Linked DNA regions of Homo sapiens. The protein of the gene in region 1 purifies or fractionates together with the protein of each later gene. This does not show direct contact. Each region holds a gene or a part of one and is shown in the gene's direction. Other genes may lie near its edges.

Region 1 (3,500 bases):
ATAAATCAGAATAATATAGGATGAAGTAAGTACCTTCTGCTGTTTGCTCTGAGACACATTCTATTAATCAGTTCCTCTCCACTGGAGAGGAAAACTCTCCAGTAACAGAAAACTTGAGCTTATAAATAAACTCAAGTTTTCCCTACTGCAGAAAACTTTCCTTCATTTATGCTATCTTCTTCTACTATCAGGCTTTTTTCTTCCTTTGGACTAAACATTTCTGGAGAAGAGTCCACACTTGCCTCCATTTCTGCTTTTTCTACCTTTTCTATCTACATTTCTGCTCTGATTATTTCTCCATCTGCTCTTTCTACTCTGTAATCTGGGTTCCTGTTTAGCTCAGAGGAGGTACCTTTCTTCTTCAGAGGTAGGAGTGAAGAGAGAAGACACAGACAGCCCAAGAGAAATGAGTGCTTCTACCATGTAGCTTTGATATCAGCAAACAGGTAGGTGAGCATAAAGACTTGAGATTGAGGCAGAAGATCTAGGAATGGTCCTTGAAAAACAGAAAATTTGACATTGTTAAAAATATAGGATATTAGTAAAAGGTTTAAGAAAACGGATAAGAGGCATTGGCATGCCAATCACAGTTGTCATCATTCCAAAACTCCTTCCAAAGGCATCAACCTGCCCACCATGCATCACTTCTTCTGGTGGACACAAGAGGGCAGTAGAGACACATGTTCCCATGTTGAGTGTGACAGGTTGTACTAGTAAAATGTGGCAGCTCAGCGTGGCAGGATGGGATGGTGAGGCCGGGAGGAAGCTCAAATGCAGCCACTGCTGCAAAAAAGCCAAACGACTGGACAAGAGTATACTGCTCAAGAAAGAAATTTGAAGATGCATCAGTTGCATCAATCTTCTTCTCTTAAGCACCTCGGTGTAGATCTGCCTCTCCTGAATCTCAATTCAGTATGCTCACTTACTAGTATACTGACATCAAATAATGAAACATGTCAGTACATGTGAAAGCTTGTAAGAAACAGAGTCAGACTACCCAGAGTAGATAAGGAGGCTACGTGCAGCCAGGAAAGGACCAGAGAAATGGAGAGTGGAGGGTCTGATGAGGACAATGAAGACTTTATTTGGAATATGCCACTGAAAATCGTGGTCATCGAACTGGAGAAATGCTGTAGATTTTATTCTGTTTCACTTTGTTTTTAATCTTAGAGGTGCTGCAGGATGGCAGGGATTGGAGTAGAGTAAATCATCCATTTCAGCCTGGGGCTGAAAGCACTGATGTAGAAGAATGAGTACTCCGGAAGTAGATGGGACATCACAAAGTTTTAAGACTTGGTTTATACAGTGACTTTCAAAAGGGCAGGTCAAGAATGTTTAATAATATCCATGAACACTGCTTCTAGTGCTAGGAGTGAGGGGAATAGGAAAGTGACCTTCCTCGGAGAAGTACGAAGATTTTGGTATTCTTAGGAAAACACTAAGATTCTATTAGTTTGAGGACACAGATAGTGTATTCGAGAAAACATGAATATGATTCAGGACTTTTTGTTTACTATCCAAGAAGGTTCCCCAAGGGCAAAGTATAAGGAATCGATAAAATGGGGACTGTGATTAGAAAGGAACTTGAAGTAGAAAGGGCTGGGTTAAAAGAGACGTGAATTCAGAAAAGAGAAATTGTGCCTGGGCAATAGCTGAGGTTACCTGAAGTTAGAGAGATGAGCTCTTTCACTTACAACAATAAGTCAGCGACAGAAAAAAGGAGATGAATTATGGTTTCTAGAATAGTTTATAAAACTAAATACACTAATTGTTTCCTCTTATAAAAACTTGTATTACTATTATTATTATTATTTAAAATGGAGTCTTGCTTTGTCACCCAGGCTGGAGTGCAGTGGTGTGATCTCGGCTCACTGCAACCTCCGCCTCCTGGGTTCAAGCAATTCTTCTGCCTCAATCTCCCAAGTAGCTGGGACTACAGGCTCCCCCCACCATGCCCAGCTAATTTTTGTATTTTTAGTAGAGACGGGGTTTCACCATATTGGCCAGGCTGGTCTCGAACTCCTGACCTTGTGATCCACCCTCCTCAGCCTCCCAAAGTGCTGGGATTACAGGTGTGAGCCACCGTGCCCAGCCCCAAAAACTTGTATTTTAAGTAAAAAAAATATACGCACATCCACATCTATATACACTTTGGAGTACCTATGAATCGCTATTTCTTAGCAAATGCATATACAGAACTAAAACTGATAGAACTTGCTTTTGTATAAAAATTATTGACATTTGTTACATCGTTTCATCATGAGACAGCTGGATCATTCCATACATCAAGAAAAAGATGTTAACAAATGTGCTGGTGAACAGAGACAGCCCAGTGTAATCAAAGACAAGGAAGAAAAAGTGATGAAGACATAAAAGGTTGATATTTGCAGAAGTACAAAAGGATTTGGCCAGTATTTGACAGAGAAGAATAATATGAAGTGCTTCATTTACAAATAAAGGGGGAATTAGCACCACAGAGGAGAATGTCTATTCACATTTGTAAAAGCTAAACTCTGTATACCTCAAATATAATTTTTTATTGTTCATTATCATTGTTATCAAAACATCAGCATTGATAGAAATAGAGATGCTCAATTAAGTATACCAAAATGCTGTTGACTGTACACTGACATATATATATATATATATTTATTTCTCAAAATAAAAAGCAAGCACATCATTATGCCGATAATATAATGAATATTGAAACCAAAAGTAAAGATGATCACAGCACACAAAGATACAACTAAAAAGACTTTAGGTATGCATATGAAAATCCCAATTTGATTGTTAATTGTTTGCAAAAGAATGGTCAACATCACATCTGTTGTGACAGAAAAATACACAACAGTTGTGAAATATTCTAAACATAATTCTCATAATAGCAAATCAAAGTTAGAAGGTTAAGCAAAATAAAGGTACAGGATTAATGCTAGATTTATAACAAGATGAAGAGCTATGAGCTCCACAAAGGCCAGAACCATTTCCGTTTTGTTTACTTTGATATTTCCTATGCTGGCACACAGTAGGTGCTCTATAAATAACTGTGAAATGAAAGAGTGTCTGCTAAGAAGATGTCATGTAAGAAATAAAGAAAAGATTAAATCAAGAAACAATATGCAATTCTGTCTATAGGAAGAAAGGTATCTAGAATTTTTTTTTTTTTTTGAAATTAACAAATACATGTATATATGTTAAAAACTTCATAAAATATAAACCTGGATCAGTTAGCAGGAGTTAATTACCTTTGGGAAATCAGACCAGGTGCCAGAAAGAGGTTAAAGGGCAATTTTTTTCTTTTCTTTACATCTTTCTGTATTATTCAATTTTTTTAATCATGAGGACATATTATTGTTATAATTTAACAAATTAGTTTTATTTTTATATTACGAACAAAAGCATCAGGAAAGAGAGCTTGAAGAGACAGAGGCAAAAAATTGAAGCTAAACATTCAATATTATTCAAAAATGAAAACAGAGAAGACAACAAGACAAGTCAGG
Region 2 (3,500 bases), on another chromosome or scaffold:
TGAGCCACAGAACTCATCTTTTCAAGCAACATATTTTCAAAGGAGGACTCCAGTATACAAAATAGATGGTATCAGAGCTTCTCTGGCTAAAGACGGGTAGGGGTTGAAAGTTTTCTTTGCTCCCCTCCCCATCCATCCCCAGACTCCTCGGGTCTGCAGAATCCAGGAGCTGAAAACAGCCATCATCCAGGAGGCTGCAGGACTGCTGAAAGCAGCTGTTAACTCAGGTTTTTTTTAAAATATAGGGAAATGAACACATAAGTACTTTGCTAAAGAAAACGTGAGTCACTGGCTGAGGAATAAAACTCATTCACTGAAGCTGAAGTACTATTTGATAAGCTAGAAATATTTTCCCTGAGTAGACCACTGTAAAAGAATGGCATGAACTACATAGTCAACTGAAAGACTCATTAATGGAAATAATCTTAAAGAACAAAAATTGTGACCTTTTTGGTGTCCACAGACTAGGGCTTTGTCTACATTTCACCATCATCTGTTCTTGTACCACAGAAACATGGAAGTTTTCTTTCCGAAGTTCAAGCTAGATCAGAAGTATGAGATGCATGAGCTGCTTAGGCAGATGGGAATCAGAAGAATCTTCTCACCCTTTGCTGACCTTAGTGAACTCTCAGCTACTGGAAGAAATCTCCAAGTATCCAGGGTAAGTCAGGATCTTTCATCAGAGCCCAACCTCAGCATGAAATGTCACCAAAACAAATGCTTTTACAAACCATTTAACTTTGATAAAATACCTAATTGTAGTGGAAAATTAGATTTAAGTCCCAAATACTTGAAATAGCACCCAGGTTGGATGTTTTAAGAATTTCAAGCAACTTCATTAAAATAACTTTTCAACTAATTTATTTTAAGCAGACCTCTCCCCCTCTGCTTAAAGTGCTCAGGGAGAAATTTGACCCTGAAATAGAACTGGTTTACAGAGGCATCATCATTTATGTTGAATACAACTTGAATAGTTCATGAAATTACACCACCTTTACAATGAAACAAACCCCTAGACATCATCTAGCCCAACTTCTCCCTCCTTGTGGAAATCCCCTCCATAGCCCTACGAAATAGCCCTCCAACTTCTCTTCCTCTTCATGCTTCCAGTGACATCAAACTCACCATTTCTTTGAAGAGCTGCCCAATCCACAAATAGCTAAAATTGTTATATGTATATATATATATGTGTGTATATATATGTATATATGTATGTGTGTATAAATGTATATGTGTGTATATGTGTGTGTGTATATATATATACACACACATATATATATATATGGAGAGAGACATACATATATATATGGAGAGAGAGAGAGAGAGAGTCCTGTAACTTCTGATTCATACTTTTTGGTCCTAGTTCTATCTCTAAAACTTCTAAGAACAAGTTTAGTCACCATCCACATAGAATCCCTTCAGTTACTCAGTGTTTCTCAGTGGAAGGGTTCTTGGTTTTGAGGGGAACTGCTTGTTGTCCAGAGCAGTTGTGCATGTTGCAGGGAACTGGTTAGCATTGCTGGCCCATGTTCACTAATGCCAGTAGGAAACTCCAGTCATCACTATAAAAATGCTCCCACACATTTCCAAATGGCAGCTACATCTCTCTACATTCTTCCTTAGCTGTGTGGTTTAATATTTTCTTATACAATTGCAATTTTCAATTCCAAGAGAGACTAAAAATGGCATCCACTTAAGTAGGACACAGTAGGGTAACTGTGGCCTGGAATCAGGTCTTACAACCTCAAGAGAGGTAAGACAATTAAATAAAACAATCCGTCAGACCAGCACCTGAAAGTGTTTCTGCTATGAACACATGAAAAACTGAAATGCGCTGCTGCTTTATGAAGGGTCATCATGAAATTTAAACTGTAAATGATTAAATATTCTCCCTCTGTTTGCTCTGGGGAATTAATTTTCCTCTAGGAAATCAGGGAATTTCCTGGAGTGAAAATCAGTGTAATTACATGTTATGTTTTCATTATCTCTTATAACACAGTAATTATATAGGTACATCACTCATATCACATCTTGTTTCTGTAAAAAAGGGCCTCCCAAACATAGCAAGCAGCCACAGTATAGGCAGCCAGAATTCAGGAAGGCTCCAGGGACCCCTGGGCTTGGCCCAGAAAAATGCCTCAGAGTAGTACCAGGTGCTGGGAAGCTGCTACAGAAGACTAGCCATTCCCTGCCTCCACCTTGCCTGCCAAAAGGAAAGTCAGAGGACTCAAGGGATCCAGGGATCAAGGGATCCAGGCAGCTTGAAAACCTTTTAGGAGCACCAGCTCAGCTCAAGAATTAGTAGCATAAATTACATGCTCAATAAAGATTTGATGCATGAGTGCATCCTGAGTCCATGCCCGGAATGTGTTTCACATATTCCACAATACTTCACATTGGGTTCCTGAGGTCTCCTGGTATTGTTTAAGACTCCTGTGGCAGTCCCTGGTGCAACCCCAGACCACTCCTCTTAACGTAGATGGGCCTGCTCCACTAAATCCCAGGAGCATGACCCCATGGGTAGGACCACTGTGAAGAATTTCAAGGGGCTCATTTAATTCCTCCTTTGCACTGCCACACAAATGGTTTTTCACATTATTTCCTTTTTCCAGGTTTTACAAAGAACAGTGATTGAAGTTGATGAAAGGGGCACTGAGGCAGTGGCAGGAATCTTGTCAGAAATTACTGCTTATTCCATGCCTCCTGTCATCAAAGTGGACCGGCCATTTCATTTCATGATCTATGAAGAAACCTCTGGAATGCTTCTGTTTCTGGGCAGGGTGGTGAATCCGACTCTCCTATAATTCAGGACACGCATAAGCACTTCGTGCTGTAGTAGATGCTGAATCTGAGGTATCAAACACACACAGGATACCAGCAATGGATGGCAGGGGAGAGTGTTCCTTTTGTTCTTAACTAGTTTAGGGTGTTCTCAAATAAATACAGTAGTCCCCACTTATCTGAGGGGGATACATTCAAAGACCCCCAGCAGATGCCTGAAACGGTGGACAGTGCTGAACCTTATATATATTTTTTCCTACACATACATACCTATGATAAAGTTTAATTTATAAATTAGGCACAGTAAGAGATTAACAATAATAACAACATTAAGTAAAATGAGTTACTTGAATGCAAGCACTGCAATACCATAACAGTCAAACTGATTATAGAGAAGGCTACTAAGTGACTCATGGGCGAGGAGCATAGACAGTGTGGAGACATTGGGCAAGGGGAGAATTCACATCCTGGGTGGGACAGAGCAGGACAATGCAAGATTCCATCCCACTACTCAGAATGGCATGCTGCTTAAGACTTTTAGATTGTTTATTTCTGGAATTTTTCATTTAATGTTTTTGGACCATGGTTGACCATGGTTAACTGAGACTGCAGAAAGCAAAACCATGGATAAGGGAGGACTACTACAAAAGCATTAAATTGATACATATTTTTTAAGATGTTTGTGCAATCTGTCTGGTATTTTAAGCTTGTTTCTAAGA

Evidence for each region. Proteins that work in one complex are often made in the same cells at the same time.
Region 2: the proteins of GUCA1C (region 1) and SERPINA10 purify together in Homo sapiens (affinity purification with mass spectrometry; one large-scale study listed by BioGRID and IntAct). This does not show direct contact.

The regions. Positions count from the first base shown.
Region 1 is NC_000003.12:108,912,380-108,915,879, reverse strand, and holds part of GUCA1C (guanylyl cyclase-activating protein 3), read left to right. Parts: intron 1-3,500. UniProt on the Homo sapiens protein: Stimulates guanylyl cyclase 1 (GC1) and GC2 when free calcium ions concentration is low and inhibits guanylyl cyclases when free calcium ions concentration is elevated.
Region 2 is NC_000014.9:94,283,269-94,286,768, reverse strand, and holds part of SERPINA10 (protein Z-dependent protease inhibitor precursor), read left to right. Parts: intron 1-510; coding exon 511-661; intron 662-2,612; coding exon 2,613-2,804; 3' UTR 2,805-3,500. UniProt on the Homo sapiens protein: Inhibits activity of the coagulation protease factor Xa in the presence of PROZ, calcium and phospholipids. Also inhibits factor XIa in the absence of cofactors.